2 separate regions of the Homo sapiens genome follow, and region 1 is linked to region 2. The links come from fine-mapping of genetic effects on gene expression. A gene starts in region 2. The other region holds a variant in brackets. All regions are shown on one strand. Distances are from middle to middle. Region 1 overlaps MLH3 (mutL homolog 3). Region 2 holds the start of MLH3 (mutL homolog 3).

What was found. PIP is the estimated chance that this variant, and not a neighbour inherited with it, causes the effect.
Region 1: its variant is the best candidate, but not a certain one, in a credible set for the expression of MLH3 in whole blood (INTERVAL, PIP 0.69).

Annotation. Positions count from the first base shown.
Region 1 is chr14:75,012,387-75,017,693 of GRCh38, forward strand. It overlaps MLH3 (mutL homolog 3), which reads right to left. Exons shown (of 13, transcript NM_001040108.2): 13 at 1,389-4,815. The coding sequence ends at 4,696. Among named protein-coding and RNA genes, the nearest start is that of EIF2B2, 12 kb to the left of the region's middle. The variant A/G (reference allele first, on the strand shown) is at 2,819.
Region 2 is chr14:75,048,442-75,053,819 of GRCh38, forward strand. It overlaps MLH3 (mutL homolog 3), which reads right to left and starts at 3,026. Exons shown (of 13, transcript NM_001040108.2): 1 at 2,939-3,026; 2 at 1-1,277. The coding sequence starts at 1,214. ACYP1 (acylphosphatase 1) reads right to left here. Exons shown (of 3, transcript NM_001107.5): 3 at 4,802-5,218. The coding sequence ends at 5,003. RefSeq lists a silencer at 2,639-2,828.

The DNA.
Region 1 (5,307 bases), 36 kb before region 2:
TTTTTCCCACGGTTTCTATCTTCCAGTTTGGGCAGAGGGCAGGAAAGGCACAATTCTTGGAACTTGAATAAGGAACAGAAATTCCTAATTTAGCCTCAGAAGAGACATCTCTGAAAAATACTCTACCAGGAAAAACTGAAGTGTAAAATGATACCTCAAAGAAATCAATGCTGGAACCCATAGGATCATATGTTTCATGGATGTGCTTCAAAACTATTTCTCAAAGCAATCTGTTGCATCAGTCTTTGGGCTAATGAAGGCTGCCAGTCACAGTTCCATCATGGAATGACTGGCATACTCTGTAATGATCTATAATACTACAACTACATCAGAACTGCTCTGCCATACAGATAGTACCAGATGGTGATGTGATTATTGTAAAGGCCTCACACTATCCACCTGTCCTTGCAAAAACTCCCTTAGCAGACATGCACCTAGTTGACATGAAAGAACAATTTTGAAATGTGATTTGGAAGTGTTTTATATCTGGCCTACTTTGCTTTGAATTATTCTTTCATTTGCCAAAGAGCTCTTGCAAGGTACTGCACAATGGCTAGGCAATTATTATTATTAATAGTAAAAACTGCAATTGCTTTTGCACCAACTTAAAGAGCTAAAGTCTAAGCTTCCAGTCTCCCAGCATCCCTCACACGATGGAGGGCAGCACTTGAGTCTAATCATGCTTGAGATGGTGATTGCCTGATATGTATATTAAATACTATGCTGAAGAGACGGATCCTTTCAATAGTGTTTTTTTCAAGCATGTTACATTTAGAATTAAGACCTGCCTAGAAAATAAGCTACTTAGTGCTGAAGAAACAAAAACTTGACAAGATTCCTAAGTTATCATTTATATGTAATATTCTTCCTACAACACTGGGTTTGGAAGGATAATAAATACATAAAAATAAAATTCTGCAGTTAATATGAAAAAGAGGTAATGCAGTGTTGAATAATGAGAAACTGCTAATTGCGGTAGCTAACTCCAAGCCACTTTTTTTGGACTGCTCGGCCCATCATGGGGCATTCCTTACTTTGGAAGTAGATAAGAGCAAGTTGGAAGGCCAGAGTCAGGCAAGGCTGGCCAAATCCCACTTCTGCAGGCTGCTGCTTGAATCATCCTGGCCTGATAGATTCCCACATGCAGCACACTGCGATTCCCACACGCTTGGATCCGGTTGCCTGGACTATATCCGATGCTTCTGGGTAAGACTGAGTGCTCTGTAACTAATGGGCCTGGGGTGAAAATGATCCAAGGGTTGGAAACATCCTAAGCCATGTGATAACCTCTTTTTTTTCTTTATATCCCCCACAAGTTCTGATACAATACATTTAGAAAGGAACTCACTGAAGATTTGCTGAATGAAGAGAGGGATGGAAGGAAAAAGGAAGGAAGGAAGGGTTTATTTGATGCAGATTCTTCAGCATTTTGTTTTCACAGACTCCCTTCTTTTCCCCTCTTCTGGACCCACCTTTTTGCCATCTCACCGTTGATGAGCAGCTTCAGCTTAGAGGGTAAAGACAGGCATGATCGCGACTGGCCAGCATACTGGCCGGTTCTCTCTGTTAGCAGACTTTTGCCAAGGGTTTGGATGGAATGGGTGGCTCTTCAGGTGGAAAACAGGTCGTGGGGGTCAGGTTTTGGGTGCCTGAAACTGCTCTTCCTTCACTCCACTGTGCCATGACTGGCTCCCACCCGAAGCTTCAGCTGAGCTGGCTTGTCAGGGCTCGCTAGGAACTGCTGAGCTGCATCTGTCCTTACTTGGCGTGGCTTCCTCAGCCCCCTCCACATCTCAAGAACGTGGCCTTGGGCCCCTTTCTGCTCTGACCATTTTGCTTGCCTGGGTTTTTTCACTGTCTGCCATGCGCAGATCCCAGCTGTTCATTTGTACCTGACCTCTGACTGCTAGAACCTCTCCATTCTTACATCTCATGTAGTTCCAGGTCCCCAGCCAGGTTCTGGATGTTACCCAAGCCCCCTCCCCATTCTCCAGCTTCATTCTAGCCTACACTTTATGCTTTGCCTTAAGCTTTTCTGATACTAGCTCCTATTACCATCTCTAGTCTTAATTCTGATAGTGGGACTGCTAGCTCCTCTTCTTTCAATAATAAAGGGCTAGCTGTAACTAGCTGTGACTCTGTGATACCTAACGCCAGAAGAAGCTACTATATTCTATCATTAGTTTCCTTGTCTTTCTCAGTGACTAAAGCTAAGCCTCTTGAAGGTAGAGACAGCCATAGGAACCTTCACTTCTCAATGAAGTGTTGATGAATGTTACAGAAAAAGGAACTCTCAAGAATGGCTGCATTTTACATCTCATCTCTCAAGTTTTACTCTGAAGTTACTAAAGCCTTCAGCGACCAGAATCTAATAAAGGTGAATCACCAAGTTTATAAATGAATGAATTCCTAATAAATTAAAAATATAAGGGATAGCATATGGGTAATAATGGGAAGGACTGTGCAGTTTGAAGTCACTCAGACCTGGGTCTGAATTCTGGCTCTTACAGCTAAGCCTTCAGCAAACCAGTTAACAGCTCCGAGCTTCGAAGTTTTATTATACAAAGGTGACAACTAGGTTCCTAAGAGGAACCTTCGTTTCCCACTTTGTAAAATGGTGATAAAGCTACCACCTTACCTCATGGACTGTCAAGAAACTAAACTAAGATAAAGTATGAGAAAAATTATTTTGTAAACCTTAAAGCACAATATAGGTATTAATGATTACTATTATAAATTACATGTATCTTTGTTCTTATGGCATCTGAGTTAAAAACAACATAAAACCCTAACAGGCGATAAAGGTAATCTATTAGAT[A/G]TTTTTCCCTAATAGGTTGTTTTTATGCTGAGGCATGCCCCCACACTTATAAATTATGAAAACAGAATAATTATCTCTTACATTGCTTGAGTCAGGCTAGTCAGGAAGGCCGGTTACATAATTTATGGAGGACTTTTTCTAATCCTCTGCTACTCTCAAGAAAACAGTAGTTGGGATTACATATAGCAAAACCTTCTGAAATCATAAGAGGCACTGAGACACTTTTTAAAATCCCTCAAATTGGTCTGGCCTTAAAAGATTTTTACAACTCCCAGGACAGTTGGCCTCCATGCAGCCCTCAAGCAGGGAGGCGGAGGCCCTGAGGCCACACTGCCACACTGGGCCTGGAGGCAGAGCCCCTGACAGCCTGGCAAATCCTCTGAAAACTCTCTCCTTTCTAAGGTCATGTCTTCCCATCTATAAAACATCCGTTTATATGTATTTAGAAGAATAAAAGCCATTTTTTAGACAGTAGGGCCTGTTCTTCAGGATTCCAATTACGTAAATCTACAAGGATCCCCTTGAAAACAAGTGAAGGTTTTCTCTGAACCTTCTCTGGGGCAGACGCTAATGAATGCAATACTTTCATTGCTCCTGTAAGATTCACTTCAAGGCTGCTGGCAAAGGAACTTTTCTTCCATGAGCACGAATTGGTTTCCTGTATTAAAAAATGAGGAAAATCATTCAATTGATATAAAAGCCACTTTGAGCAGGCTGGTCAGGAAATACAAAAGTAGAAATTCTCATTGCATCATCTTACTAATTGTATAGCACCCCAGTTGCAATAAACATTACCAGCTGGCTTTTTGCATTTTTTTTCTACTATGCAATTTTAGTCTGTTGAGTCCTATTAACCACAAATCATGTGAAAAGGTGCGGGAAAAATAGATTGAGAATGGCATAACAAGCATTTGCAGAACGATCAGTCCTGGTCCCAAGTGATATTATAAGGGCAATAGATAGGCATAATGTAATAACACCAAGATACCGTTTGAAAGGGACCCAAAGAACCCTTGTCTCCTGAAAGAAAAAGTGTAAAGATATTTGGTTAGGTTGAACGTATGTATGCTGTGTTTTGATATGACAATTGCTTTCACATAAAGAGATACTTTATAAAGTACCAAAAAAAATCATATTTTAAAAAACAAGCTCATAGTATTTTCACCATTTTACTGGTTTGGGATATTGAACATCAGTCTCTGAGTTTTTAAAGAAAACATAACAAAAAACCCGGAACAGGACTTTAAATTTTCTCTGTTCTATCCTTGTCCTTTTTATCAATAGTTTTTATCCCTAAAATAACTAAAGGCCTGATGAAAGACCCTAGAGAATGTTTTCACTGTAGTAGAGAAACTCTTTAAGTCTGAGATGTAGCACATGAAGCAGCAGCATAGGGAAGTGAAGAAGACTGAAGGGAAAAGAGGGGACCAGTGCAGAAACCCTGGGGGCAGCCTGGGAAGGCAGACTACCCCTTGGACTTGAGCATCAGCTGAATTAGATACACGCAAATGTGAAGCTTGAAAAAAAACTGTACAAAAACAAAAATCACACCCTTCAAATAACAAACCAAGCAACCAATCAAACTGTCATTAAATTTTATCATTAAATAAGTAGCAAAAGGTAGATACTATATAGCAACCTTCTGTGCCCATGGATGCAAATGAATGAATTGTCTTTAGGCTTGAATTTCATCTGGCTACTCAACTAGGGGAATCATCTGCTCAAGAAAGACTGATACAGAGAGCCCTGCTGTCTAAGCTGCTCAGGGACACTGGGCTGATTCAGTCAGGGCCGTGCTGGTACCTGCTGCTGCTGCTCTCTGCTCAGAGGCATACAGTGAACATCCCTTTGTTCCTTTTAGACCAGTGATTCTGTTCTCATGGTGGCTCACAGGGAGGCATGGATTGCTGCAGGCTCTGCCTTGTATCACACTCTGCTTTTCCAAAGAGACGCCAGGCCTGGGCCATTTTGCGAAGTTTAGTGAGGTTGGGTTTAATCTATGGGAAGAAAGAATAACTTCAATTAGCAATATGAAAAGGTAGGTAGCATACAGGCTGGGCGAGGTGACTCACACCTGTAATCCCAGCACTCTGGGAGGCCAAGGCAGGCGGATCACAAGGTCAGGAGTTTGAGACCAGCCTGGCCAATATGGTGAAACCCTGTCTCTACTAAAAATACAAAAAAAAATTAGCCGGGTGTGGTGGCGCATGCCTATAATCCCAGCTACTCAGGAGGCTGAGGCAGGAGAATTGATTGAACCTGGGAGGCGGAGGTTGTGGTGAGCCAAGATCATGCCACTGCACTCCAGCCTGGGCGACAGAGTGAGACTCCGTCTCAAAAAAAAAAAATTGAAAATGTAGGTAGCATACAAATATTTCCAAAGTCTGGCTGTTATAATCTGTTTAGATTTCTAACTTCTGGATTCAATAGAGATTACAGATTGTTTTAAGGATCCAAGGGGACTCAGAACTTTAAGTCTAGATTCCCAG
Region 2 (5,378 bases):
TTAAACATCTCATAGGAATCTAAAATATTATTACATGCTTCCTGGAAATTGCTCCTCTCATCGGAAGTCACACGCTTCTGAAGAGTAGCATCAAATAAACTAAAACCATTATCTTCACTAAATTCCTTAATATCCTCACCTGATAATTCCACAAATAATTTTTCTTGCTTTAAAAACATTTTCACTCCTTCCTGAATGCAAAACAAGAGAGTGTCCCAGTTCTGAAATTCAATCAGAGTTTTGGCTGGCTCCATGCACACATCATACTCACAGAATTGGCACTGCACATTAATTACATATATGCCATAGAGTTCTGGGGTAGACCGGTGCCGAAGACTTGAATTCATTTGCCTACTGGTGGGACCATTCTTTGGCTTGCATATAATACTTTCTTTCCTTAATAAAAAGTCAATGAGTTTATGTAGCTTTGTCCTTAAAACTAGTCTTTTGTTCACAAACAAAAACTGCATATTCTTGTTGTAATGTGCTTCAGAGCTGATATAGCCACTAAGCTCAAACTCTTTATATTTAAAACTTATTTCTCTTAGCTTTTGGGACTTTCCCAATCCATAAATTTGACAAAATCGGGAACATACGTCTTTGGTTTTAGGGAGCTGAAGAACCATGGAACCAGAAACATCATTTCTCAAAGAGAAAGAAATGGAAGGGTGCATGAGTGAGAGAGCTTCTATTCTCTGCCTAACCTTCTCAAACTCCAGTCTAGGGTCCATGCATTTCCTCCTTACAGGAAGCTGGTAAAATAGGTTATACACTGTTACAGTAGTCCCAGCGCTTGCTCTAGTCACATCAGCTTCACAAGCTTTCAGGGCTTTTCCACTCTGAAACAGTTTCACAAAAGTTTTCATTGTCCTGTTTTTCTTGGACGAAATTTCCACAGCACTGGCCATGTCAGCAATATTTGCCAAGGCCTCTCCTCGGAAACCATAAAACCTTGGATTCTCCAAGTCCTGTACCGAGTGGCATTTACTGGTGAAATAACGATTTCCCACTTTCTCTACATCATCACTCCCCATCCCAAATCCATTGTCTATCACTTGAACTTGGAAGGTTTCCATATTCACCCTGACAGCCACACATTTTGCTTCAGCATCAATACTGTTGAGGGCAAGTTCCTCAACACATTGGCCCAAGGAGCTTATGGCCAAACCAGAACGCAATTTGGCTTGTACTTCAACTGACAAGCACTTGATCATGGTAGGTAGAAAGATGGTGAGAATGCCAGGCACTGGTTTCCTTCTCTGACTGGAAATAATTGCCTATTGGAGAAAAAAACCACACACGCACATAATCAAAGCTTTAGCATTACACAGCATTATGAAGAAATAGCACTTGAGGTAAATGAAATCACTCTTATTAAACCAAATTGTGAAACAAAGCAAAACAAAGTTATACCGCTGATCTCTAGGCACAGCTCATGCTTGGTGCAATGGATTAACATCCAAAAAAAATTCATAATTTCATAATTTTCAATGCTCCTTTCTAAATCCCACATGTCCTAAAGTGAAATCATAATTACACTTGAAGTTGACCAGTAAACACAGTATTCGAAATTCTAACCACTTCACCAAAAACAGATGCCTAAATTAAATACAGCTAAGGAACATTAGCTAGAAATTATTCATGACAAAAATGTCCAAGCTAGTTTCATAACATTTATACATTACACAATAACCATGACTTTTAGAAAAATACTTATAATGAATTGCTAAGACATTGTAATAAGGTGAAGCAATAGGAAGAAATTTTAAGAATCAAATTGTATCAAAGAGAGATTGGGGGCATTAAGAGGTTATTATTATTATGGTTAAGTATAGTCACCTCAGGGAAAGAGGCTGGGAATGGGAAAAGATAAAGCAGGAAAATTCCTTTTCATATAAACCTTTCTTTGCCATTTGATTGTTAAATCCTGTTCATGTATTACTCTGATGTTTTTAGAAAGTCGTTATTATTCTTTTTTGAAACAGTCTCACTCTGTCACCCAGGCTGGAGTGCAATGACACAATCTCGGCTCACTGCAGCCTGCACCTCCCGGGCTCAAGCAATCCTCCAGCCTTAGCCTCCCGAGTAGCTGGGATTACAGGCGCTCGCCACCATGCCTGGCTAATTTTTGTCTCTTATGTAGAGATGGGGTTTCACCATGTTAACCAGCCTGGTCTCGAACTCCTGAACTCAAGTGATCCTCCCGCCTTGGCCTCCCAAAGTGCTGGGATTACAGGTGTGAACCACCGCGCCCGGCCAGAAGGTCATTATTAATATTCTTTTGGTCTTTACAGATGGGCATAAACTACCTTGGTAATAATAATGATGGCATGGGGCTGCCTGAACTTGATTTTAAGTTTTCCTGCAAGTGAAAACACAAAAACAAAAAACAAAACAAAAAAAACCAAACCCTAAGATTCCAGTGCCATTAAAGGTCTCCCCTTCTTCTCCATCAGTGAGAGCCACGTGGGTGGGCCCCTGCAGGCGGTGGGGCCGGTTTTCCAAACTCGGGACAAATCAGGGCTCTTAACTGCAGAATTTCTGCTGCTTTCTAAGCTAATGCACTAAGCAGCCGGCAGCAACTGACGGGTAAACGTTTAACAAGTATTCCGATTAATGTAAACCCAATGATTTCCTGATGACGCCTCCCAGCGCCTGGGACTGACGGGACGCACGGGCCTGGATCCAGGGCACGGGGGCCTGGGAGGGCCGCGCGGGCCGAGTCCGGGGCAGCGCTGCCTTCCCGCCAGGCCCAGCCCCTCCCTGGCCAGCCCCGTCCTTGTCCCCAAACTGGGCCCGCCCGGCCGCCAGGCCGCCGGGCCTCCGGGGCCCTCGCGCATCCGGCTCCGAAAGCTGCGCGCAGCCATCATCAGGGCCCTTCTGGTGTTAGAAGAGACCCCGGCATCATCTTTTCGTCGCGTGCTTCCCCCAGAGTCACCTGGAGTCCCGCTTAACAAATTCTCCGACACCAACCGCCTCGGACGCCGACGCGCGCACCTTGGATCTTGAGGCTCGTGCGTGCCCACGAGCATGCGCTTCGGAGGGGGCGCGCCAGGCCGCGAGACACCAGTGCGCATGCGCACCAGTTGTTCCAGCCAAGGATCCGCATCCCAGGGTTCAGTGAACCGGTACCTACAGTCTCAATCCTTATTCCCTTTTGGCATGGTGTTAAAGACTATGTCGTAGCTTTTACTTTTGTTTTTATTTTTTTTTCCCGTGTTTTCCCTTTCCTTTTTTTTCTCATTTTCACCTTTGCTCTTAACTACCGTTTAATTCAATATATATTTTATGTGTTTACTTATTGTCTTCTCTCCCTAGAATGTAAGCTATGTGAAGGTAAGGAGTTTATATATTTTGTTTACTGCTGTATCCCAGTTACCAAGAACAGTGCCTGGCCTATGGTAGGCACCGAATGAATGAATAATTCCAGAGCCTGCCATCTTAGAATTATGGCATTTGGAGCTGGAAAAGGCTGAGAAACTGTCTAACTCAACTCTTTTTTTTTTTTTTTTTTTTTTTGAGACGGAGTTTAGCTCTTGTTGCCCAGGCTGGAATTCAGTGGTGCGATCTCAGCTTACTGCAACCTCCGCCTCCAGGGTTCAAGTGATTCTCCTGCCTCAGCCTCCCGAGTAGCTAGGATTACAGGCATGCGCCACCACACTCGGCTAATTTTGTATTTTTAGTAGAGACGGGGGTTTCTCCATGTTGGTCAGGCTGGTCTCGAACTCCGGACCTCAGGTGATCTGCCCGCCTCGGCCTCCCAAAGTGTTGGGATTACAGGCGTGAGCCACCGCACCCGGCCTTTGCTCAACTCTTAATTTACAGATGACAACACCAAGACTCTCTTCACTGACTTGAATCTCCCCAGTGCCACCACAGCTTTTAGTTATAAAAATAACTAAAGGAGAGCAGAACTCTGAGAATGCTGTGAGAATAAAGTGTTTTGGAATTGTTAACCAGTCCTTAGTTTTTGCTTTCTATCTCATTTTCATTGAGAATTTAAAGTGGAATTTATAACGAATTTGTCAGACCTGGTAAGCATTTGATATATGCTAGTTTAGTGACTAACCAAACCCAACCAACCAGTCTTCTAGGGCTGATTAAGCAAAATCCTGATAACTGTTTATGATTATTACTATACCTAGGGCTGCCATAACAAAATACCTCAGACTGAGTAGCTTAAGCAGCAGAAGTCTATTTCCTCTCAGTTCTAGAGACTGGAAGTCTGAGATCAAGGTGTTGGCAGCAACGATTTCTCCTGAGGCCTCTCTCCTTGGCTTGTAGATGGCCATTTTCACAGGGTCTTTGATTTTTGCACACGTGTCTATAGCCAATATGTTCTCTTATAAGAACACCAGTCAGATTGGATTAGGGCCCACCCTCACAGCCTCATTTAATCTTAATCACCTCTTTAAAGGCCCTATGTCCAAATACAGTCACTTTCTGAGGTACTGGGGACTGAGACTTTAACATATGAATTTGGTGGGACACAGTTCAGCCCATAACATAACTTTATGTGAATTCCTTACCCAGAGAAAAGAAACAACAGCAGAAGTAATTCATCCAAACATAAGGTGAACAGAGCTAACAAATTGAACTTGTGGTATTTGTTCTTATTAGGCATGGAATTTCTTGAAGAACATTTCATAGAAACCATTTAAAGAAATGACTCAGACTTTTTTTCTTTCAGACCTCTTTAAATTACCTCAAAATCCTCTTCCTACAAATGTTTACTGAATAAAGACCTCTCATTTCGCCCAAAAGGAAGTTCACTGAAGATTTTTTAAAAGTACTCTAAGCAGAAGGTTCTAACGTTTTTATTGATTAGATTTGTGTACAGTGGTAATCCTTCCATCATACAGGTAATATATAATAACATTCAAAAATCTGACATTAAAATAACTTATTGACTAATGCTAATATTAACACACAATAGTTCTATCTCTATTAATAATAAAAACCAAACCACTGAGTTTATCTTAGAAAACTTAAATTCAGGCCATTATTTTACAATTTGGAAGTCTGAGTAATCCAACTTCAAGATGACTTTTTCATTGTTGAAGTTTGCTTTGTCGATGTGTGATTTAGGACTTCCTCTTGTTTCAAGCCATTCCTGCATATGACGCACCTTGGAGATGGGACCTTGCAATTGTCCTTGCACTGTGCCCCGGTCAGTGTTCTGGACCCAGCCTACCAATCCCAGCTTTTTACCCTCAGCCTAAGGGGGGTAAAAAGAGAGAGAGATCCAGTGAGATTGAAGAAAACAAGGTAAGACTACAATCTGTTGCCAGAATCTTGGCCTAGAATCAAGCCACTGAAACTAATTTGATATTGCCCAGAACAGTCAAAAGAAAGACAGCAAGAAGGATCTCATTGCT